3 separate regions of the Homo sapiens genome follow, and regions 1 and 3 are each linked to region 2. The links come from fine-mapping of genetic effects on plasma protein levels. A gene starts in region 2. Each other region holds a variant in brackets. All regions are shown on one strand. Distances are from middle to middle.

What was found. PIP is the posterior inclusion probability: the model's chance that the variant is causal. Protein levels are from antibody-based Olink assays in UK Biobank. Linkage for the fine-mapping came from a reference panel and not from the study's own genotypes, which makes the PIPs less certain.
Region 1: its variant is fine-mapped to the plasma level of the PLTP protein (UK Biobank, PIP above 0.99).
Region 3: its variant is fine-mapped to the plasma level of the PLTP protein (UK Biobank, PIP above 0.99).

What each region holds. Positions count from the first base shown.
Region 1 is chr20:45,918,894-45,927,075 of GRCh38, reverse strand. No RefSeq gene overlaps it. Among named protein-coding and RNA genes, the nearest start is that of PLTP, 11 kb to the right of the region's middle. RefSeq lists a silencer at 2,212-2,506. The variant A/G (reference allele first, on the strand shown) is at 3,860.
Region 2 is chr20:45,909,502-45,917,336 of GRCh38, reverse strand. PLTP (phospholipid transfer protein) reads left to right here and starts at 5,182. Exons shown (of 16, transcript NM_006227.4): 1 at 5,182-5,258; 2 at 5,874-5,984; 3 at 6,086-6,185; 4 at 7,267-7,395; 5 at 7,666-7,821. The coding sequence starts at 5,885.
Region 3 is chr20:45,976,387-45,984,568 of GRCh38, reverse strand. No RefSeq gene overlaps it. Among named protein-coding and RNA genes, the nearest start is that of ZNF335, 8.3 kb to the right of the region's middle. The variant C/A (reference allele first, on the strand shown) is at 3,613.

The DNA.
Region 1 (8,182 bases), 9.6 kb before region 2:
CCAAGGCAGCACCCTGTGGGCTGCCTGCTGTGGCCGAGTCTCTGTCAGTAGCCTGGAGTCTTTTATTCCCAATATAGGGATGAGCAGTTGAGCAAAGATCCTAAGGCTTTCCATTTCTCCAGCTACTTTTCTGAACTAAGAAGCCTGGGTAGACAATAGGTCTGGGCTGAGAGAGGTGGTTGGAATAAGCTGGGCTCCTCTCCCTGGCACCAGGGCCGGCTGCATAGATTTAGAAAGGCCCATGCTTACTGGGTGTGGAGGCTCATGCCTGTAATCCCAGCACTTTGGGATGCCAAAGTGGGAGGATTGCTTGTGGCCAAAAGTTCAAGACCAGCATGTGCAACATAGAACCCCATCTCTACATAAAATAATAATAGTAATAATTAGCTGGGCATAGTAGGTGCTCCTGCAGTCCTAGCTACTTGGGAGGCTGACGCAGGGGGTGATTGCTTGAGTCCAGGAGTTCGAGGCTGTAGTGAGCCATGATTGCACCACTGCACTCTAGACCCTGTCTCAAAAAATAAAAACAAGATGAAAATAAAAATAATAATAAAAAAGAAAAGTCTGTGTTTGGTTTAATGTTCTACTGTCACCATCTTAAAAATCTTAATAATTTTGGAACAAAAGTCCCACGTTTTCATTTTGCCCTGAGCCCTGAATATTGTTTTTTGAGACAGCGTCTTGCTCTGTCACCCAGGCTGGAGTGCAGTGGTGCAATCTCGGCTCGCTGCAACCTCCCCCTCCCAGGTTCAAGCAATTCTCTTGCCTCAGCCTCCCCAGTAGCTGGGACTACAGGCACGTGCCACTGGGTCCAGGTAATTTTTAGATTTTTAGTAGAGATGGGGTTTCACCATGTTGGCAAGTCTGGTCTCACACTCCCAACCTCAGGTGATCCACCCACCTTGGCACCCCAAAGTGATGGGATTACAGGCGTGACCCATCATGTCCGGCCCTAGCCCTGAAAATTATGTCACCACTCCTGGCTGGTCACTAGCTGCCAGGGCCTCTGAGGACCCCTGCCTCAACTCCGGACAAAGCCAAGCCTCCACACTAAAGCAGAAACATAAACAACCAGCTCAGGTTGCCACATAGCTTAACCCCCTTGTTCTCTGCCACTGCAGCAAGAAGCTGCTGAGAGGGAACTTTCATCCCCTGAGGTCCTGGCAGCTGGGGAAGGGAGACTCTAGCTGGATCCCACTCCAGGTTGCCCCCGCCTAGGCTGGGCTTGAGCTGGCCATGGACCCTACACTGCAGTTTAAATTATGCAAAGGGAGTTTCCAAGGCAAGTGGGTCTGGCCCCCGGAAAGCTGTGGAAAGGAGGCTTCCACCCCAAACTGTGGTTCCCACAGGGAGTGGCTCTTGGGCCATTCTGGGACCAGATGAGAGAAGCCATTTAGGCCAAGAATAGATGAGAGGAATGGGGGCGTCTCCCTTGGTCTTCCTGGCCTTGGAAGCGTCTGATGTGGTGTACTATTCCCTCCATTTCTTCCCTTGGCCTGTCCTAGAGTCTTGAGAATAAGCGATAAGTAAGACGGACAGACGGTTTGTCTTAGGGAGCCCACAGAGCAGTGTGGGAGGCAGACATATACATGAACCCTCTGCCACAGGGAGATGAGGGCTCTGGAGGGATGGCAGGGGCTGGGGGTGGTGGGCACACAAAGGAGAAAGCTTCAGAGGAGATGACAATGAACAGATTCTTATTGGAAAAATAGATTTTCCAGGTAGGCAAGGAAAAGGGGAGGGCACAGCGTGTGCCAAGGCCTGGAGGTATAGAAAGGGAGGGTGTGTTTGGAGAGCTGGTCAACCTGAGCACAGCCAGGGAGCAAGGGAGGTGCAGGTCCTACCAGGACCCTGGAGTCCAAATTCAGTCCTTGCTCTGGGTTAGTGCTCAGCATCCCAGGCGGCGTTTGGTCATATCAAGATAGGGGTGGGCCACCTGTGGTGGTCCCCTCCACTCTCCCACCCATTCCCTGTGATGCGCTTTTTTTTTTTAAGACAGTCTTGCTCTATCGCCAGGCTGGAGTTCAGTGGCGCGATCTCGGCTCACTACAACCTCCAACTCCCTGGTTCAAGCGATTCTCCTACCTCAGCCTCCTGAGTAGCTGGAATTACAGGCACATGCCACCATGCCCAGCTAATTTTTGTATGTTTAGTAGAGATGGGGTTTCATCATGTTGGCAAGGACAGTATCAATGTCCAGACATCATGATCCGCCTGCCTCGGCCTTCTAAAGTGCTGAGATTACAGGCGTGAGCCACCGTGCCCGGCCGTGATGCTCATTTTTGCACTTCAGTCAGAGTGGCCAAGAGCCAGGATGTTTACTCCCATATGAGCTGAGTCTGCAGAATTCCAGACTTCTTCAAAAAAGAAACAAGAGCGACAGCTGGTAGCTTCCTGAAAGTCTGAGATCACAGAAAACTGACTTAGAAAGGAGAGAAAGGAGGACACCCCACCCAGCCTGGGTCCCAGCTGGGTTCCCAGGACACATCTAACCCAGAGATCTCAACCCGAGCTAGGAAAATGTTTTTAACAGCTTTATTAGGGTATAATTTACAGACTACAAGACTCACTTGTTTTCAGTATACAATTCTATCACGCCTGTGATCCCAGCACTTTGGGAAGCCACGGCAGGCGGATCGCCTGAGGTCAGGAGTTCAAGACCAGCCTGACCAACATGGCGAAATGCCATCTCTACTAAAAATACAAAATTAGCCAGGCTCAGTGGTGTATGCCTGTAATCCCAGCTACTTGGGAGGCTGAGGCAGGAGAATCCCTTGAACCTGAGAGGCGGAGGTTGCAGTGAGCTGAGGTCACGCATTGCACTCTAGCCTGGGCAACAACGGCAAAACTCAGTCTCAAAAAAAAAAAAATACAAAAATTAGCTCGGCGTGGTGGTGGGCGCCTGTAATCCCAGATACTTGGGAGGCTGAGGCAGGAGAATCGTTGAACCAGGGAGGTGGAGGTTGCAGTGAGCTGAGATCATGCCACTGCACTCCAACCTGGGAGAGATTCCGTCTCAAAAATAAATAAATAAATAAATACATATACAATTCTGGCCGGGCACAGTGGCTTACACCTATAATCTCAGCACTTTGGGAGGCTGAGGCAGGAGGACTGCTTGAGCCCAGGAGCTAGAGACCAACCCAGACAAGACCTTGTCTCTACTAAAAATAATAATAATAAGTAAATGAATAGGCCGGGCACGGTAGCTCACGCCTGTAATCCCAGCACTTTGGGAGGCTGAGGAGGGTGGAGGTGAGGAGTTCGAGACCAGCCTGGCCAACGTGGTGAAACCCTGTCTCTACTAAAAATACAAAAATTAGCCAGGTGTGGTGGTAGGCACCTGTAATCCCAGCTACTGGGGAGGCTGAGACAGGAGAATCGCTTGAACTCAGGAGGCGGAGGTTGCAGTGAGCCGAGATTGCACCATTGCACTTCAGCCTGGGGGAAGGAGAGAGACTCTGTCTCAAAAATGAATGAATAAATAAATAAATAAATAAAATTTGTTTTAAGTAAATGTATAGAGTTATACAATTGTCAACACAGTTCTGTTTTAGAACATTTCCATTACCCTAAAAGATTTCTTGGGCTTGTTTGCAGTCAGTTCCTGTTCCCACCATCAGCCCCCAGCAACCACTGGCCTGCTTTCTGTCCCTATAGAGCTGCCTTTTCTGAACATTTCATATAAATAGAATCACACAGATGTAGTCTTTTGCAGCTTGCATCTTTCACTTTGCATTATGTTTTTGAGCTTCATCCATTTTGAAGCATATATCAGTAGTTGATTCTTTTTTTATTGCTGAATAGTGTTGCATTATACAGATATACCATATTTTATTTGTTTACCAATTGATAGTTG[A/G]ATTGTTTCCACCTTTTGGCTATTACGAATAACACTACTATCAACATTCATGTACAAATGCATTCATTTTCCTTTTCTGTGGGTAGACCCTTAGGAGCGAAATTGCTGTATGGTAAATTTGTGTTCAACTTTTTTTTTTTTTTGAGATGGAGTCCTGCTCTGTCGCCCAGGCTGGAGTGCAGTGGTGCGATCTTGGCTCACTGCAACCTCTGTCTCCTGGGTTCAAGCAATTCTCCTGCCTCAGCCTCCTGAGTAGCTGGAATTACAGGTGCCCACGACCATACCCAGCTAATGTTTTTATTTTTGGTAGAGTTGGGGTTTCACCATGTTGGCCAGGCTAGTCTCGAACTCCTCCTGACCTCAGGTGATTCGCCCACCATGGCCTCCCAAAGTGTTGGGATTACAGGCGTGAGCCTGCTGGAAGGTGAGGTAGAAGGGGCCTGGGGGTGGGTTAGGTCAAGGAGTCCCGATTTCTGCTCAGCCCACTGAGATCCTGTGGGGGCACCTCCCATGACCTTAGGCGTCTCTCAGGCCTCTGGGGAGATTAGGAAAGTATGACATTCTTGGCTGCAGACCAGCTCCAGATAACCCCGGCTAAATGCAAGGAAATGGGTGGTACCAGCAGAAAGCATAGAGCTTAGAGGCTCAGCCGGGGATTAGATCAGGGCTACAGAGTGCACCATAAAAGCTGCTCCTTCTGAAGGGTCTAGGGATGATAATAACACCCCATCTTGAATTCAACAAACATCTTTTTTTTTTTTTTCCTGAGATGGAGTTTCGCTCTCTTGCCCAGGCGGGAGTGCAGTGGTGTGATCTCAGCTCACTGCAACCTCTGCCTCCCAGGTTCAAGTGATTCTTCTGCCTCAGCCTTCCAAGTAGCTGGGACTACAGGTGTGTGCCACCACGCCCGGCTAATTTTTGTATTTTTAGTAGAGACGGAGTTTCACCATTTTGGCCAGGCTGGTCTCGAACTCCTGACCTCGTGATCTGTCTGCCTCGACCTCCCAAAGTGCTGAGATTACAGGCATGAGCCACCGTGCCCGGCCATCTTGAATTCAACAAACATCTATTGAGCATTTTCTGTGTGCCAGACCCTGTGCTGGGCACTGGACATATGGCCATGAATAAGAGTGGCAGGCTCCTGTCCCCGCCCTGGGGAGCTTGCAGTCTACTGGAAGAAACAGGCAATAAAGAATTAAACAAACAGAATGACAGGTAATGACACAGAGGGGGCCTCTTCTGTGGGGGTGACATTTGAGTAGGGATCTGAGTAACTCTGCATGGGTATGTGTGTGGGATGATGTGTCTGGTGGAGAAAAGAATTAAGGAAAGTCTGAGGCTGAAGGCACTTGGTGTGTTCCCAACAGTGGTAGAAGATGGGCTTGGAGAGGAAGGTAGGCAGGAGCTAGTTCACCTGCAGTGTTTCCAGAGGTCGTGGCCAGAGTCTGGGTTTTATTTTGTGTGTGATGGGGAGGATGTTGAGCAGGATAGAAAAATTCTATGATTCCCATTTTTAAAAATATCACTTAGATTGATGTAGAGAGGCTAGACCTACAGGAGAAATGGTGAGACAGGGAGATAAGGCAGGTTGTCCCGGTAACCAATGAAAATGGCTTGAAGTGGTGTTGGTGCTGATAGAGAGAATTGTATAGATGTGGGGCATCTTTTTTTTTTTTCGAGGCAGAGTCTCGCTCTGTTGCCCAGGCGGGAATGCAGTGGCGCAATCACAGCTCACTGCAGCCTTGACCTCCTGGACTCAAGCGATCTTCCCACCTCAGCCTCCCAAGTAGTTGGGACTATTGGCGCATGCTACCACACCTGGCTAATTATTTTTTGTAGAGACAAAGTCTCACTATGTTGCTCAGGCTGGTCTTGAACCCCTGGGCTCAAGTGATCCTCCCACCTCAGCCTCCCAAAGTGCTTTGATTACAGGCATAAGGTGAGGCGTCTTTTGGAGTTAGAGACACCGGGATTTGCTGATGTGGGGTATAACAAAAAAAGGAAGTCAAGGATGACTCCTATATTTTTGACTTGAGCACTGCATAAAGCTGGTGCCATGACCTGTGATGGGGAAGCTTGGAAAAGGAGCAGGATTTGGTACTTGCTAGGGTTGGGGGGGAGCTAAAATATGGATCTAGCTGGGTGGAAGAGAGGAAGAAGGCCAGAGGGCGGTGACATCCTCATGATTCCTGGCTAGGGGTTGGCAATCTTGTTAGACCAAAGCCTGGGTTATGCGGGGGACTCCTGCAGTATTAGGACACCTGGAAAAATTCGAGTTGCATTATGTTGACCACTTCTTGCAACATTTCAGCAAGCCCTGCAGAAAAGGGACAAGCTTAGGCTGAAGATGGTGGCCTATCCTTATTATCAAAGGAAAAAATCCCTTCCTTTGGGGCCCCCTCCCTTCACTTACTTTGAAATGTTGTGACTGGCTTATGAAATCCAAACATCTAGACAGAGCTGCTATGGATCCTCCACCTCTTCCTCAAAACAAGTAGAGGCTGGAAAGCCCACGTGGAGTATAAGGAAAGCACAGACGGTTAGGAGGCTTAGAGGACCACAGAAAGAGGTCCCCATGAGTCAGAGTCAGCTAGCAGACTGACAGAGGCATAGAAACTGGGAAGAAGGGTGGGATATGAAGAAGAAAAGAAAAGGGAAGTCAGAGAGAGAGTGAGCTGCCCAAGGCTGACATCCGAGCCCTGATGGAGAGGCACCAGGTGTGGGGATACAATGCCCTAGGACCGAGGACCCAGGGAAAGCAACACCTCATAAGGAACCTTAGAATCCTTGAGTTTCTAATCTGGAGGTGACTTCAGACACCAAGTGGCCTGTTCTTCACACAGAAAATGGACTGGCCTTCAAGGAGGAAATGGGAAAGAAAGAAGAAAACAACAGATCTCCCAGCTTTAGAAATCACGGAAAGTCAGTCCACAGCTTTGGCCTGGCTGAACTCAGCAAGCCCCAGCCCTTTTAGATTCCTTTTACCCATTTGGTAAATGTCCAGCCCTCACGCGGACTGTTTTGTCCAGTTGCATTCTGGAAACAGATGATCATTTCGCCTGTCTGGAGAGATGTAATCGGGGTCTTCCTGGCCTGAGATTTGTCCTCCTCAGATAATCCTCCTCTCATTCCAGCTGGGTCCCCTGTCACATGTCCCCAGGTGCACCCATGCTGACCAACACAGGCGCATGAGCTGCAGTGCTCATATGCTCAGGCAGAGTGAGGAGAAGGGGGTCACTCCCTGAGGGGTAGCTGGGGTGGGCGTTGGGGGTGGGGACTGGGCAGGAGAGGAGATGGGCTGACGCAGCTTCTCCAAGCCATGCAGAGATCCAAAGAAAACACAGCTGGAGGCACAGCGAGGGAGGAGGGGGCCAGAGCAGTGCATGTTGACATGTTGGGCAGCAATCCAGCTTGGCCTCCTGTGGTCAGTGGAGCCCGTGTTTACTTCCTTGGACCAGTTATTTCCTCGTACTGAACCTCAGTTTCCAAATCTGCAAAACAGGGCCAATAATAGCTATCTCAAGGCACTGCTGTGAGAGTTACATGGGATAATGAAAAAGAGAGAGACAGAGAGAGAAACCTAGTTACAAGCATAGGCTCTGGGGCCAGACTGACTTGAGCTTATAACTGCTGGGCCTCAGTTTCCTTATCTGTAAACTGGGGGTGAGGATACCTATCTTGTAGGATGTTATGAAGTGTAAGTGAGTTAATATGTGGAAGCACTTTCTGGCCAAGTGTGGTGGTTCACGCGTGTAATCCCAACACTTAGGGAGGCCGAGGCAGGCAGATCGCTTGAGGCCAGGAGTTTGAGATCAGCTTGGTCTACACAGTGAGATTCTATCTCTACAAAAAAATTTTAAAAGTTAGCTGAGCATGGTGGTACATGCCTATAGTTCCAGCTACTCGGGAGGCTGAGATGGGAGGATTACCTGAGCCCAGGGAGGATGAGGCTGCAGTGAGCCATGATCGTGCCACTGCCTTCCAGCCTGGGTAACAGAGTGAGACCCTGTCTCAAAAAAGCACTTTCTGTTTGTTAAGCAACTATGACAACTATTAATACTAATAATCAGGCCAGGCACAGTGACTCATGCCTGTAATCCCAGAACTTTGAAAGGCCAAGGCGAGAGGATCGCTCGAGCCCAGGAATTCTAGACCAGCCTGGGCAACAAAGTGAGAGCGCCCCACCCCGCCACCAAGTACTAGGTTCCACACTTTGTATACTTTATCACTTTAAATCCTCACTGCCACCCAGGGAGGTAGGTAAGTACTAGATCATCCCATTTTACAGATGTGGAAACTGAGGTTCAAAAAGTGTTTTTTTTT
Region 2 (7,835 bases):
CAAGGACTCCAAACCAGTTCAATCACTCAGTAAATATTTAGTCAGTACCTACTGTGTGCCAGGCATGGTTCTAGGCACTAAGGACACAGTGTTGAACAAAATTCCAGCTCTCACGGGGACAGACAACAAACAAGAAAGAAAATATTCAATAGTAATAAAATCTATAAAGAAAATAAACCAGGCTGATATGATTGAGAGCGATTAATAGATAGGCAGGCAGGGAAGGCCTCTCTGAAAAAACGCCATTTAAACTGAGACAAAATGCTGGGCGTGGTGGCTCGAGCCTGTAATCCCAGCACTTTGGGAGGCTGAGGCGGACAGATCACTTGAGGTCAGGAGTTCGAGACCAGCCTGGCCAACATGTGAAACCCCATCACTACTAAAAATACAAAATTAGCTGGGCGTGGTGGTGCACGCCTGTAATCCCAGCTACTCAGAAGACTGAAGTAGGAGAATTGCTTGTACTCTGGAGGTAGAGTTTACAGTGAGCCGAGATCATACCACTGCACTCCAGCCTGGGTGACAGAGCGAAGCTCCGTCTCAAAAAATAAATAAATAAAATAAGCTGAGACAAAATGACAAGGAAGATCAGGTGGAAAAGCATTCCAGGTAGAGGGAACAGCAAATGCAAAGGCTCTGAGCAAGAAGAACTTGCACATTCAAGGAACAGAAAAACCAGTTTGGCTGGAGCCGAATGCAAAGGGCAAGAGAGGTGAGAGGTGAGACAGAGAGAGTAGGCCCTATCACATGCCAGGGAATCAGGGTACTGAGGCAGGAGTCTATTCCAGTATGGTGAAAAGCCACTGATGGCTGATCATGCTAATGATTGTAGGTAACATTTTTTGAGCCCTTAGGAAATGCCAAGTACTTATTAAACCCTTTCAATGCATTAACTCATTTAATCCTCACAAGCAATCCTAAGAGGGAGGTACCTGGATCATCCTCATCTTACAGATGAGGAAACTGAGATCCAGAGGGGTTAGGCCACTGGCCAGTGAATTGCATGGGACAAGACCATTTAAGAGATAAAAATGATACAAAGATGAAGCCTGGATTCATCTGGGTACACAACTGAGGCTAGAAAAGCATTTCTTTCCCATCCCTTTGATTGCTGGGAAGCCTCTCCTTCAGTCTTCAAAGCCAGGAAGAGTGAGGCCAGGCACAGTGGCTTACGCCTGTAATACCAGTATTTTGGGAAGCCAAGATCGGAGGATCTTTTGAGGCCAAGAGATTGAGACCAGCAAGGGCAATATAGCGAGAAATATTTCACCTAAGAAAATGAGAGCAAGGCTGGGCACACTGGCTCACGCCTGTAATCCCAGCACTTTGGTAGCTCAGGAGTTCGAGACCAGCCTGGCCAACGTGGTGAAACCCCATCTCTACTAAAAATACAAAATTAGTCAGCTGTGGTGGTGTGTGCCTGTAATCCTAGCTACTCTGGAGGCTGAGGCGGGAGAATCGCTTAGAACCCGGGAGGTGGAGGTTGCAGTGAGCCGAGACAGCACCACTGCACTCCAGCCTGGGTGACAGAGTAAGACTCTGTCTCAAAAAAAAAAAAAAAAAAGAAAAAAAGAAAAAGAAAACGAGAGGAAAGGCCAGATGTGGTGTAACACCAGCACTTCGGGAGGCTGAGGTGGGTAGATCTCTTGAGCTCAGGAGTTCAAGACCAGCCTGGGCAACATGGTGAAACCTCATCTCTGTGAAAAATACAAAAATTAGCTGGGTATGGTGGCACATACCTGTAGTCTCAGCTACTCAGGAGGCTGAGGTGGGAGGATCACCTGAGCCTGGGGAGGTTGAGGCTGCAGTGAGCCGTAACTGCACCACTGCACAGCAGTCTGGGCAACAGAATGAGACCCTCTCTCAAAAAAGAGGGAAAAAAAGAAAGAAAAGAAGAGAAAACAGCCAGGTATGGTGGTGCACACCTGTAGTCCCAGCTACTTGGGGGGCTGAGGTGGGAGGATTGCTTGAGCCCGAGAGTTGGAGATCAGCCTGAGCACATGGTGAGACCCTATCTTAAATAAATAAAATGTATTTTGTTGTTGTTGTTAAAAAAAAATAAAAAAGGGCCAGGTGCACTGGCTCATGCCTGTAATCCCAGCACTTCGGGAGGCCAAGGCGGGCGGATCACCTGAGGTCAGAAGTTCGAGACCAACCTGGCCAACACGGTGAAACCCTGTCTCTAAAAATACAAAAATTAGCTGGGCATGGTGGCAGGCGCCTCTAGTCCCAGCTACTCGGGAGGCTGAGGCAAGAGAATCACTTGAACCTGGGAGGTGGAGGTTGCAGTGAGCCGAGATCGTGCCACTGCACTCCAGCCTGGGTGACAGAGCGAGACTCCACCCCACAAAAAAAAAAAAAGAAAAGAAAGGAAATAAGAGGAAAGAAAACTAACATCCACCAGGTTTTCTGCTTGAGCCAGGCTCTAGGAAGGTTACTAGAGTTCAAAGGAACACAGATACTTCCTCCTCTGGATACTCTTAACACTTTCTCTGTTCTCCCTCTACACCTTTTCTGCTTTGTTTGCTCGTGGTATGTGCCCCTAATTAAGATAGCTAGCATTTATTTGGCACTAATGATGTGTCATGTACCAGGCCCATTTATTCTTGCAATAACCTTAAATTATTGTTTCCATTTTAGGATGAGGAAATTGAAGATCTGAGTGCTTAAGCAAGGGATCAATGTCATACACCTAAGAACTGACAACCTGGGGTGTAAACTCTTGTCTGTCAGACACAAGAGTCTAAGTACATAACTACCGGGCTATAAAGCCCACCTTCCACTCTTCCATGAACAGTCTACGGATTCCCTAATAGCAGCCACAGAATTGCTTCAACCTCTACTTCCTGTTAAAGAGGGTTCATAATAGTGCCAGTCTGACAGGTTGTTAAGGTTAAATAAATTACCTAGAATTCGGATGACCAGTTGTAAGGTTTCCCAGGGACTGAGTGGGTTCCCAGGAATGGTTTCAAAATGGGGATGGCTGGATGTGTGGCTCACGCCTGTAATCCCAGCACTTTGGGAGCCCAAGGCAAGAGGATCACTTGGGTCCAGGAGTTCAAGATCAGCCTGGGCAACATGGTGAGACCTGTCTCTACAAAAAATACAAAACTTAGCTGGACATGACATGGTACCACCTGCCTGTAGTCCTAGCTACTCAGGAGGCTGAGGTGGGAAGATCGCTTGAGCCCAAGAGGTGGAGGCTTCAGTGAGCCGTGATTGTACCACTGCACTCCAGCCTGGGCAACAGAGCAAGACCCTGTCTCTAAAAATATAAATAGGCGGCCGGGCGCGGTGGCTCACGCCTGTAATCCCAGCACTTTGGGAGGCCAAGGCAGGTGGATTGCCTGAGGTCAGGCGTTCGAAACCAGCCTGGCCAACATAGCGAAACCATATCTCTACTAAAAATACAAAAAATTAGCTGAGCGTAGTGGTGGGTGCCTGTAATCCCAGCTACTTGGGAGGCTGAGGTAGGAGAATTGCTTGAACCTGGTAGGCGGAGGTTGCAGTGAGCCGAGATTGCGCCATTGCACTCCAGCCTGGGCAACAAGAGAGAAACTCCATCTTAAATAAATAAATAAAAATAAATAAATAGGCTGGGCATGGTGGGTCACACCTGTAATCCCAGCACTTTGGGAGGCTAAGGCAGGCGGATCACTTGAGGGCAGGAGTTCAAGACCAGCCTGGCCAAAATGGCAAAACCCTGTCTCCACTAAAAATACAAAAATTAGCCAGGTGTGGTGGCACATGGCTGTAGTCCCAGCTACTTGGGAGGCTGAGGCAGGAGAATCACTTGAACCCAGGAGGCAGAGGTTGCAGTGAGCCAAGATCACACCACCGCACTGCAGCCTGGTGACAGAGCACGACTGTGTCTCAAAAAAATTAATTAATTAATTAAATAAAAAAGGAAATGGAACTATTTTTGTGAATCTGTGGATTATATCAGAAAAAAAAGACACAATGGGGAAAGTCCTAGGCAAATCAGGATGAGTTAGTCATCCTTCCTAGATGAGTGTTTGGTGCTAAATACATGCTCAGCAGACATGATTATTGCTTCCCCTTTCTTTCGTCCATTTGGCAACAAAAAGGTGGCAAGCACCCACTCTGTGCCCTGTCCTAGGGTCCGGGAACCCTGTAAGCAGTAGATGGAGGTGGGGGTGGGGGTGGGGGCGGGGATGCTGTTCAGAGCACCTTGCTCCAAGGGTTCATTAAAAAATCCACCAGTGGACCGGGCGCGGTGGCTCATGCCTTTAATCCCAGCACTTTGGGAGGCCGAGGCGGGCGGATCACAAGGTCAGGAGATCGAGACCATCCTGGCTAACACGGTGAAACCCCGTCTCTACTAAAAATACAAAAAAAATTAGCCGGGCGTGGCAGCGTGCGCCTGTAGCCCCAGCTGCTGGGGAGGCTGAGGCAGGAGAATGGCGTGAACCCGGGAGGCGGGGCTTGCAGGGAGCCGAGATCGCGCCACTGCACTCCAGCCTGGGGGACAGAGCGAGACTCCGTCTCAAAAAATAAAAATAAAAAAAATAGAAAAAACAATCCACCAGCCACGATAAATGGCAGACCTCCTTCTGATTTCAGCCGGTGTGGTATGTTCCTGGGCTGACAGCACTTGTCTAGTCTTGCTTTCCCAAGTGGGAAAGGTCTCTGGGACCTTAAGGTCCCCAGGTGGTGACACAGAGACAGGTAGGGGGGCCCATAGCAAAGCCAGGCAAGGAGGTCCCGAGATGATTGTGGGTGGCAGGGAAAGAAAAAATATTCCTTGACTTTGTGCCTGGACCTGGTTGTAATAAAGGCCCAAGAGGTAGTTCCTATCATCGTGCACATTTCGCTGAAGGAAGAAACTGAGGGTCAGTGACCCAAGTGAAGTGACTTGCCCAAGATCATGCAGGAAGACATGGATAATTGTAATTTGAACCAAGGTCCCAGCAAAGTGGGATTGTTGGGGCTGAGTGGGCCGGCTCCTGCATTTCCTTCCCTCTCCCTGGGCTTGGGTCTCCCACTTGTCCAGACAGCGGCCGGGCTTGTCACGGGGCTCTGTGCAGCCTTTTCCACTCTCCCGGCTGCCAGCGTCCCGCCCCGTCCCCTCCCAGCCCCCAAGGGAGGAGGGGAGAGCTGCAGAGAGGAGGAGGGGTCGGGGAGGCCGGCTTTATAAAGGCGGCTGGAACAACCCTGCCCGCCAGACCCCGTCGCCCGGATCCCCTGAGCTGCCCGCCATCCCACGTGACCGCGCCGCCCCCCAGCTCCACCGCTGAGTGAGTTGGGGCGCGTCCCTATCCCGTTCCCAGTCCCTCGCCGAGCCGCGTGGTGCACTGAAGCCGGCGTGGGGAGGAGAGCCGATGAAGGAGAACGCTAACATGGGGGCTCCAGGCAGAATCTCTAATGGGAGAGATTTAGGACCTGAGGGAGCCGGGAGACCCGGGAGCCCACGGTCTGGTCGGCCACCTCCTCTCCTCCCCGGGCGCGAGGCCTAGGAGACCGCAAGCCACCCTCCAAGAATGCGCGTGCAGTCGTTGCCGTGGCAACGTGCAAGCCTGCATGGGCCCACCGCTAAAGGAAAGGGGAGGTTGTTGGGGGTGTGGGGGCTGGTCCCCTGGAGGTCCAAACTCATCACGCGGCGGTAGCACGAGGGAACTGGGAACGTCCCCTCCCCCGTGTCCCAAATCCTCTGGGAGCCAGAACGCAAGTCGCATCGCCTCTCTGAGCCTCAGTTTCCACATCTGCCATATGGAGGCAAGATTATTGGTTCCAAGTTCCCCGAAGAGTTATCTGGAGGGTAACGATCCAGGCTAGTTCCCACTTATGGTTGGACGTCCAAGGAATGGGTTTAAGCGGCTCAGATAACTCCTGCGACCCCACCCCACCCCCAGGCCCGCTCGCCATGGCCCTCTTCGGGGCCCTCTTCCTAGCGCTGCTGGCAGGCGCACATGCAGAGTTCCCAGGCTGCAAGATCCGCGTCACCTCCAAGGCGCTGGAGCTGGGTAAGGCGCAGGGGCAGACAGGGACGGACGGGAGCGGACGGGGTTGGGGTCGCCCCAACAGTGGGCACGGGAGCTAAGTAAGGGTTTCTCTGCTGCTTCAGTGAAGCAGGAGGGGCTGCGCTTTCTGGAGCAAGAGCTGGAGACTATCACCATTCCGGACCTGCGGGGCAAAGAAGGCCACTTCTACTACAACATCTCTGAGTAAGTGGGGGGCGGGGCCTCGCGATCCGGGGCGGGGCCTCGGCGGTGGAGGCGGGGCCCGAGAAATCTCAGGGTCTCGGGAGACTGGAGGCTGAGTGGGATGGGGCGTGGCCAAATCGATGAGGCAAGACTTAAGAAACCGGATGGGGCCGAAAAGATAAAGGCCAAGCCAGTCATCATAGGCGGGACCAGGCAGATGGGCGTGGCCTTGAAAATGTAGAGGGGGCCAAGAAGGAAGCAGGACCAGTGGATGTGAGGCGTGGTCGAAGAACAACAGAAAGGTGGAGTCAAGGAACTTCCCAATAGATGAGAGTGGAGTCTCGGGCACGGGGTGGAGTTAATCGGAGGGGTGGAGAAACTGAAGGCTCTAAGTATGGTTTAGGATGAGGGAGGGGGAATAAGGAATTGAGATGTGAGACGGAGCTTAGGTGATGGAGGCAAAGTGAACGGACTCTATTAAAAGACCGGGTGTAGCAACCCCAGGGTGTGGGAGGGGAGGGGGTGCAAGCAAACAAGACTTTTTTTTTTTTTTTTTCTGAGAGGGAGTCTTGTTCTGTTGCCCAGGCTAGAGTGCAGTGGCGCGATCTTGGCTCACTGCAACCTCCGCATCCCGAGTTCAAGCGATTTTCCTGCCTCAGCCTCCCGAGTAGCTAGGACTACAGGCGCGTGCCACCACGGTCTGCTAAGTTTTGTATTTTTGGTAGAGACGGGTTTCACTATGTTGGCCAGACTGGTCTCGAACTCCTGACCTCAAGTGATCCGCCCTCCTCGGCCTCCTAAAGTGCTGGGATTACAGGCATGAGCCACCACCGCACCTGGCAAACAAACAAACAAGACTTTTAAGCGATGGGGTGAAGCTCATTTTTAACACCTGGATCAGGAAGACCTCCTCTCTCAGCCACCCAAGTTCAACTTTGAGCCACCCAAGTCTAAGTTGGGCACTTGAGGGACAATGGAAGAATTCATTCCACCCACTCCCGCTTCCCCAGGCCTGGACTTGAAAGGGGAGCAGACAAATTTCCTGTCGTTGGGGGAAGTTCCCTCTTCTTGGCCCTGGATCTGACCCTGAGGCCTCCTGTAGGGTGAAGGTCACAGAGCTGCAACTGACATCTTCCGAGCTCGATTTCCAGCCACAGCAGGAGCTGATGCTTCAAATCACCAATGCCTCCTTGGGGCTGCGCTTCCGGAGACAGCTGCTCTACTGGTTCTTGTAAGGACCCAGCACCCTCAGGGGAGTGGAGAGTGGGTCAGGAGGGCTGGAGGTGCTGTGGGGCTGTGGGCAGCCCCCTTAGCCTTCCTGAGTTTCCGTTTCTTCATCTGTGTAACAGAAACAGGCATATGCATTTCATACGAGTTGATAGGAAGGTTTGGTAGGATGTGTGGAAAGAGGTGAAACCTTATTAAGAGGTATGGTGATGCATGGGGGCACTGAAGACTCAATTGAGCTCCTACCTGGAGTGAATATTAACCCCCCTGGCAGCTATGATGGGGGCTACATCAACGCCTCAGCTGAGGGTGTGTCCATCCGCACTGGTCTGGAGCTCTCCCGGGATCCCGCTGGACGGATGAAAGTGTCCAATGTCTCCTGCCAGGCCTCTGTCTCCAGAATGCACGCGGCCTTCGGGGGAACCTTCAAGTAAGCCCCAGCCC
Region 3 (8,182 bases), 67 kb before region 2:
AGTGAGCCGAGATCGCGCCACTGCACTCCAGCCTGGGCGACAGAGCGAGACTCCGTCTCAAAAAAAAAAAAAAATTAAAAAAAAAAATTCGTGTGGTGCAGGCCTGTGGTCTCAGCTACTTGGGAGCAGGGGAGGCTGAGGTGGGAGGATCGCTTGAGCTCAGGACGTCAAGGCTACACTGAGCCATGTTTGTACCACTGTACCCTAGCCAGGGTGACAGACCAAGACCCTGTCCTAAAAAACAACCCCAAAGATTGACTAAGCACCTACTACGTTTCAGTGACTATGCTTGGTAATGGGGCTACAGTGGTCAACAAGAAAGACAAGATCCTGGCCAGGTGCGGTGGCTCACACCTGTAATCCCAACACATTGAGAGGCCAAGGCTGGAGGACTGCTTGAGGCCAGGAGTTCAAGACCAGCTTGGGTAACATAGTGAAACCCCCATCTCTATTTTTTTTTAATTAAAAATTAAAGGCCGGGCACGGTGGCTCACGCCTGTATTCGCACCATTGCACTCCAACCTGGGTGACAAGAGCAAGACTCCATCTCAAAAAAAGAAAGAAAGAAAGAAAGTTCCCTGTTTGATATATATCCTCTTACCTATGCAACGTTCAGGCATGTGACTAGGCACCACACATAATAATACTAGGTACATTTATTAAGCACTTGCACTGTTTTCCACACAGTTTAATTTAATCCTCACAGATACCATATGAAATATTAATATCATCCCTAGTTTATAAGAGAGAAACAGAGGAGTAGAAAGTTAAGTAACTCCAAGCGGAGCTGGGGGTTGACTGCAGATGTTCTGATTCCAGAGCCTATGAGCTTAACTGCACTGCCACGCATTCTCTCTTTTACTCCTCAAAGTTCCCGTTTTACAGATGAGGAGACTGAGACTTGTGGACCCTCAGTTTGGTCTGACTCTAGAGTTCCTTGCCCCATGTTATCCTTCCAACAGCTGACTCATTCAACAATCATTTTCTGCTCAGCAGAGAAACAAACCAGACTCAGGACTGGCTTTGGGAGGCTCCGTCCATCGAGGAGCCTGGCAGGTAACTGGCAGCATCTCACGGTGGTGTGTGTTCTGTGACAGAGGTAGGCAGAGCATGCTAGGGGAACGCGCTGAAGGGAAATACCAGCTCTGCTGGGAAGAAGGCTTCCTGGAAGAGGTGATACTTAAGGCAGACATAGAAAGATAAAGAGACTAAAAAGGTCACATGGACTTGGGGGAGGGGCACTGCCTGACAATGCATACACAATGCAATCCTTCCTAGGTATGGGATAATTTGGGCCAGGTAATTTTTCTGTTTGTCTCAAATCCATTCTCTGCCCTTCTGCTCTGCTCCGTGCAGCAGAGGCTAATCCCTGCAAACCATGTTTCCTGGACTCCCTTGCCAACTGGCTTTTGGCTAGGATTGGCCAATGGGAAGTCCTGGTGAGAGACTGGAGAGAAAGAAGGGAGAAGCCAGGGTCTTTCTCCTCCATTTCTCTCGTCTTCGGGAAGGATGGGGTGGGGGGATCTTTAGCAGTTGCAATGACTCCTTCATGGTTCAGCTCCTGCTAGACAGACCTGCTGTGATTCCAGCTTCTCTCAGGGTGGCCCCAGTTGCTGGTCTCCAGTAATGCTACCTCCTCCCTTGATATGAATACTTCCAGCCCTGGGTGAGGTAGCAGCTTCATGAAGTTGCTAATCTCAGGTTTGCCTCAACTTCCCCTGGTTGCTATTTCTACCCATAAAACAACTTTGTAGCTAATTCTCCACATTAAGTTCCCTCTGTGTGTTGTGTTGTGTCTTGTGTGTATGTGTTTAGAGGCAGAGACAGGGTCTTGCTCTGTTGCTCAGGCTGGAGTGCAATGGCGCAGTCATAGCTCACTGCAGACTCAAACTCCTGGGCTCAAGCTATCCTCCCACCACAACCTCCCCAATAGCTAGGACTACAGGCACATGCCACCATGCCCAGCTAATTAAAAAAAAAACAATGTTTTTGTACAGACAAGGGTCTCACTATGTTGCCTAGGCTGGTCTCAAACCCCTGACCTCAAGTGATCCTCTCACCCTGGTCTCCCAAAGCGCTGAGATTACAGGCGTGAACCACTTCATCTGGCCTAAATTCCCTCTTTGGAATCATCTAGTAGTGGTAGAAGTCTTGTTTTCCTGGCTAGACCCCTGATATTCTGGGTCTTTGTTTCCTTGTCTATAAAATGAGGGTTCATTGGTTCATTCATAGAACAAATAGCTATCTAGTATCTACCTGTATCTCCAAAATGTGCTCAATGGTGAGGATACCACAGGAAACAAGACAGATTAAAGGAGACAAAAATCCAGGCCCTGCCTACCCTTTATGTCTTTGTAATGATCAGATGAGATGTTTCCATACATGTCGCCTGCTGCCTGGTGTCAGGAATTACCATCACATACAAACAGTCAAATACTATTTGGACTTCAGCCTATTTTCTTTTTCTTTTATTTTATTTATTTATTTATTTTGAGACAGAGTCTTGCTCTGTGGCCCAGGCTGGAGTGCAGTGGCACAATCTTGGCTCACTGCAACCTCTGTCTCCCCAGTTCAAGCAATTCTCCTGCCTCAGCCTCCCGAGTAGCTGGGATTACAGGCGTCCGCCATTATGCCCAGCTAATTTTTGTATTTTTAGTAGAGACGAGGTTTCGCCAGGTTGGCCAGGCTGGTCTTAAACTCTGACCTCAGGTGATCCACCCACCTTGGCCTCCCAAAGTGCTGGGGTTACAGGCATGAGCCACCGCACCCAGCCCATTCAGCCTATTTTCTAAATCCAAGTGTTGTGGCCCTAGGGCATTTCCCCACTACCCCATCCCCCTCCAATACTGAAAGAGAAAGATTTAGGACAAATAGAAGGAAATCTTAATTTACACCGTGGGAAGTCAACTTAAGGGACTCATTATCCCAAGTGGTGGTACAGTCTTAAGCTATAAATAGGTTTTTAAAAACAGGGTTAGCTAAACCCATAGACAGCAGTGACATGAAGAAAGCAGGTAGAGATGAACCCTCGGACCCACCTGCTGGCTGCCTACTCTCAACCCCGCTGCCCTTCCGGGGCATCTGGTGCAACATGAGGAGCACTGGACTGGGAGTCAGTAAGCCAGGGTTTGAATCCTACCTCTGCTGACGATCAAGCACATGACCTCAGACAGTCACTGCTCTGGGGCCTCAGGTTCCTCATCCGTAACATGGGAATGCAGAGAGCATCTAATATCTCTGGCTGTTGTGACTGTAGTTTAAAAATGCACATAGGGCCGGGCAAGGTAGCTCACATCTGTAATCCCAGCACTTTGGGAGGCTGAGGTGGGTGGATCACCTGAGGTCAGGAGACTAGCATGGCCAACACCGCAAAATCCCGTCTCTACTAAAAATACAAATTAGCCGGGCATGGTGGTGCGTGCCTGTAATCCCAGCTACTCGAAGGCTGAGGCAGGAGAATCGCCTGAGCCTGAGAGGCGGAGGCTGCAGTGAGCCGAGACTGCACCACTGCACTCCAGCCTGGGCGACAGAACGAGACTCCATCTTAAAAAAGAAAAAGACCAGCCTGGGCAACATGGTGAAACCCCACCTCTACCAAAAAAATATACAAAA[C/A]TTTGCCAGGTGTGGTGGTGTGCACCTGTAGTCCCAGCTGCTCAGGAGGCTGAAGTAGGAGGATCACTTGAGCTTGGGAGGACTGGTTGCAGTGAGCCAGGGTCTGCCACTGCACCCCAGCCTGGGCAACAGAGCCAGATCCTGTCTCAAAATAAAAATAAAAATGCATACAAAACACTGAATGCATCCCCTGATACTTGGTAAGTACCCAGTAAACATTCACCCAGCCGGGGTAATATGGGGAAAACCCATCTCTACAAAAAATACAAAACAATTTAGCTGGGTGTAATGGCGCGTACCTGTAGTCCCAGCTGCCTGGGAGGCTGTGGTGGGAGGACTGTTTAAGCCTGGTAGGCAGTGGTTGCAGCGACCCATGTTTGCACCACTGCATTCCAGCCTGGGTAACAGAGTGAGACCCTGTCTCAAAGAAAAAACAAAAAAGCCAAAAACAAACAAACAAACAAACAAACAATCTGCTAGTGGCCGGGCGCAGTGGCTCGCTCCTGTAATCCTAGCACTTTGGGAGGCCGAGGTGGGCGGATCACGAGGTCAGGAGTTCGAGACCAGCCTGACCAACATGGTGAAACCCCGTCTCTACTAAAAATTCAAAAAAATTAGCTGGGCGTGGTGGCGCGTGCCTGTAATCCCAGCTACTTGGGAGGCTGAGGCAGGAGAATCACTTAAACCCGGGAGGCGGAGGTTGCAGTGAGCCGAGTTTACGCCACTGCACTCCAACCTGGGCGACAGAGCGATGCTCTGTCTCAAAAAAATAAATAAATTAATTAAAAACTGCTAGTGTGATTATTATCTACTGCAGGAGATCTGGCCTGGGCTCACAGCCCCTTCCATTACACCAGAAAATTTCTGTGATCTTGAGCAAGTCAAATCCCCTCTCTGGGCTTCAATTTCCTCATCTGTAAAATGGGAAAATAGTAACCACCAGGCCTGACTCAGGAGAAGACAAAATATCACCTAAGAGTCAAGCATTATGATGAGAAATGGTACAGCAATCTAAAAGTATGGAGTCTAGAGCCAGATTGCTTAGTTTTCTTTTTTTTAAATAAATGAAAAAATTTTTATTGAGTATTACTTTATACATGTAAATTAAAAGTGAATCTATATTAAGTTGACTATTCTACAATAAAAACCTATGCAATGGGAATAATCAAAGCTGTCTACACAATACTAATGTGGTCAATAAATTACCCAGATGTTTTTCCACAAATATTTGGATTACCTGAATTAGCTGATTTTTCCACAAAAGTTAAATTTGAGCTTTAATATGGTAGCAGCAGGATGCTGCTTAAGTTTAGAAGAAAAACATAAGAATAAAAACCCTGAATAGCATAACCAAATCTTCCAAGAAATAAGTTCACCAAAAAAGTAGCATACACCTATTTGGTATCCAGAGGAGGAAACAAAACAAAACACAGGCACTTAATCAACATCCACCAAGTGATCATCACTAACATTCTATTATTACCAGAGCAACTGTCAATACGTGAACCGTAGATTAGGACAGACTTACATATCTAAAAACAAACCAGTAATCAATAATATATACAGAAATACTAACTTGCAGTCACATTTAAATACCATCAACAGTTTGGTGTATCTGATATAGACTGAATTCATTTCATCACTGCTATAAATTCCTTAAAAGTGTTCTTTTCCTAATGTAACATTATCTTTAAAAAATGGTAAGATATTTCCCAATATGCATCAGTTCTTTCACTCACCCATTCAATAAATGTTGCAGCAAATTAAATAGAACCTATTAACTAGATCTAAAAACAATGGCTGAATAATTAACACAAAGAAGTACTTTTGAGTAAACTATTCAGATTAGACAGGCTAATGCTAACTAAGACTGCATTTTGTGCTACTGACATGCACTATATAGATCGTACACTACTAGATGGAAGGTTGGTCCACGTCCATTTATTTAAAGATTCTGTAACACCTATAATAGTATTTAATACAGCTCCCACACATAATATTCCTCTCACATAGACATAGTTATTTTTAGTGGGGATAAGGTATGACTTTAACATGCTATGAGATTCTAGCTAAGTAAAATAAAAACAATATGGGCTCAGGTTTTCTTAGGTAATATTAGTTCAAGTTTTTAAACTGGGAAACAACCAACTTCCATATATCCAGGAGAAACTTAGCATGGGGGGAGGTGCCTTAGTTGATGTGCCTGATAAGCAAACTGTTAGTCGTCTATTAGTATTATGTTTTCAGCTTAATGTAACAACAAAAGAAAGGTGTCACACTACTTCTCAGATAATATGGGAATTACAATTACAGATAATATGGGATTACAATTACAATCCCATGGGATATCCTTTATTTATGAAAGCATAGTTCCAATGCAAAAGTCAAGCTTTATGGTTACATATTAGGATAGGTTCAGACCCAATATGACCATGTTTAGCACTAACTTTAACATGTTAAAGTTCTGATTCCTGAATGTTTTTCTCACTTAATATATTATCTCCAATGACAAGCTGGTGTGTCTGGCTTCTTATGCTGAAAATATATGCCTGAATCCTGTAACAAGTTATTAACAAAATCATGAATAGTTATTAAATAAGTGCCAGCACTACATGGAACTTACTGGTCACCAACTCAGAACGATAAAACTACACACATATGCACACAAAAAAACCCCAAAGAAACATACCTATCACTGTACATATGAATACTGTCCAGGATATCAGATCAATTATCAAATCCAAGGTCTCTGCTGTTTTGTCTTACAGTGTTGAATATATGAATGCTTCTCTATTACACTGACTTGTATTATTTTCAAGAAATTATTAAGTGGATTCAAAATCTTACATTTTTATTTCTAATTATAAAATCCAGATTAATCCAGAAAACACAAACCACATGTAACTGAGGTAGGTTTTTCACCTTAAGGATACATTGCTTCTACCACAATTTAAAATTTTTAAAATTGAAGAAAAAAAAAAGACTACATTGCTCCCTATACCTGCCTCTGATACTTAATTTTCTACGTTTGAAACTACTTGAACAAGTGTGACAGTGCTCTACTATATTTAGTAAATCCCTTAGTACCTACAAATACACACCCAAAATCCCTTCCCCCCTTCTCTAATGGTCACTGTTGTATAAAAAAATTGCCAACAACTCTAGAAAGATGAAATAAAGATTACTATAGCAATCTTCAGTTAATTCATTTCAGAAATCAAGGAAGCAAGTTACGTTCATTTTAAAGATGACAAACTTACTATTTTGAAAATGAGCTCATAAACACATTAGAACTTTGAATGTGCTTTAGTATGCCACAAATTCCCAGGAGATTTAAGAAATAGTATTTCTGAACAGAAATAATAATTTCACAAATACTTTATTGACAATAGACAAGTCTTTTAGGGTAGTGCACCTGTATTAAAAACTGCCTTCTAACAATCTCAACACTTTTTATAAATTTTCAGGGGAAACTGTAGCAGATCCTACTTTATTTTTCAATAGTTAGTGTAAAAGTCTGTATGTAAAATAAATACATATTTTAAGGAGATAGAAGAAGGACTGCACATGAAATGCTTTGACTAAGTTGTAAGGCTCCTGTCTTTACACTATCATTATGTTAAAAAGGCCAAAAAAAGTCACTGCTAGAAACATTCCCCCAAAAATTCTTAAACAGCTCAGTCTTTAAAAGTATTAATAATTTTTTTTTTGAGACAGAGTTTCATTCTTGTTGCCCAGGCTGGGGTGCAATGGTGCGATCTCAGCTTACCGCAACCTCCGCCTCCTGGGTTTTCAAGCAATTCTCCTGCCTCAGCCTCCCGAGTAGCCAGGACTATAGGCATGCGCCACCACGCCTGGCTAATTTTGTATTTTTAGCAGAGACGGGGTTTCTCCATGTTGGTCAAGCTGGTCTCCAACTCCCGACCTCTGGTGATCCACCTGCCTCGGTCTCGCAAAGTGCTGGGATTACAGGCATGAGCCACAGCACCCAGCCTAACAGATTGCTTAGTTTTCAATCCTAGCTCCATCCTTTACTTAGGTAGATTCTTTTATTGTTCTGTGCCTCAGTTTCCTCATATGTAAAATGGAGATAATAATGACAACCACTTCGTAGGTTCATAGGGTGGTTGTGAGGATAAATAAATGAATGTAAATAAACCACTTAGAATGGTGACCGGCACAGAGTAATTTAAGGTATTTCTTTTTTTGCTTTTGTTTTTGTTTTTGTATTTTTGAGATGGAGTCTCTATCGCCCAGGCGAGAGTGCAGTGGCACTATCTCAACTCCCTGCAACCTCCACCTCCCAGGTTAAAGCGATTCTCCTGCCTCAGCCTCCCAAGTAGTTGGGATTACAGGCAATGTGCCACCATGCCTGGCTAATTTTTGTATTTTGTGGTAGACACCAGGTTGGTCAGACTGGTCTTGAACTCCTGACCTCAAGTGATCCTCCCGCCTTGGCCTCCCAAAGTGTTGGGATTACAGACGTGAGCTACCGCACCCGGCCTAAGTGTATGATTACTATGGAATGAGGCAGACCTGGTTCCATATACCAGCTCCATCCTCCTGGCTG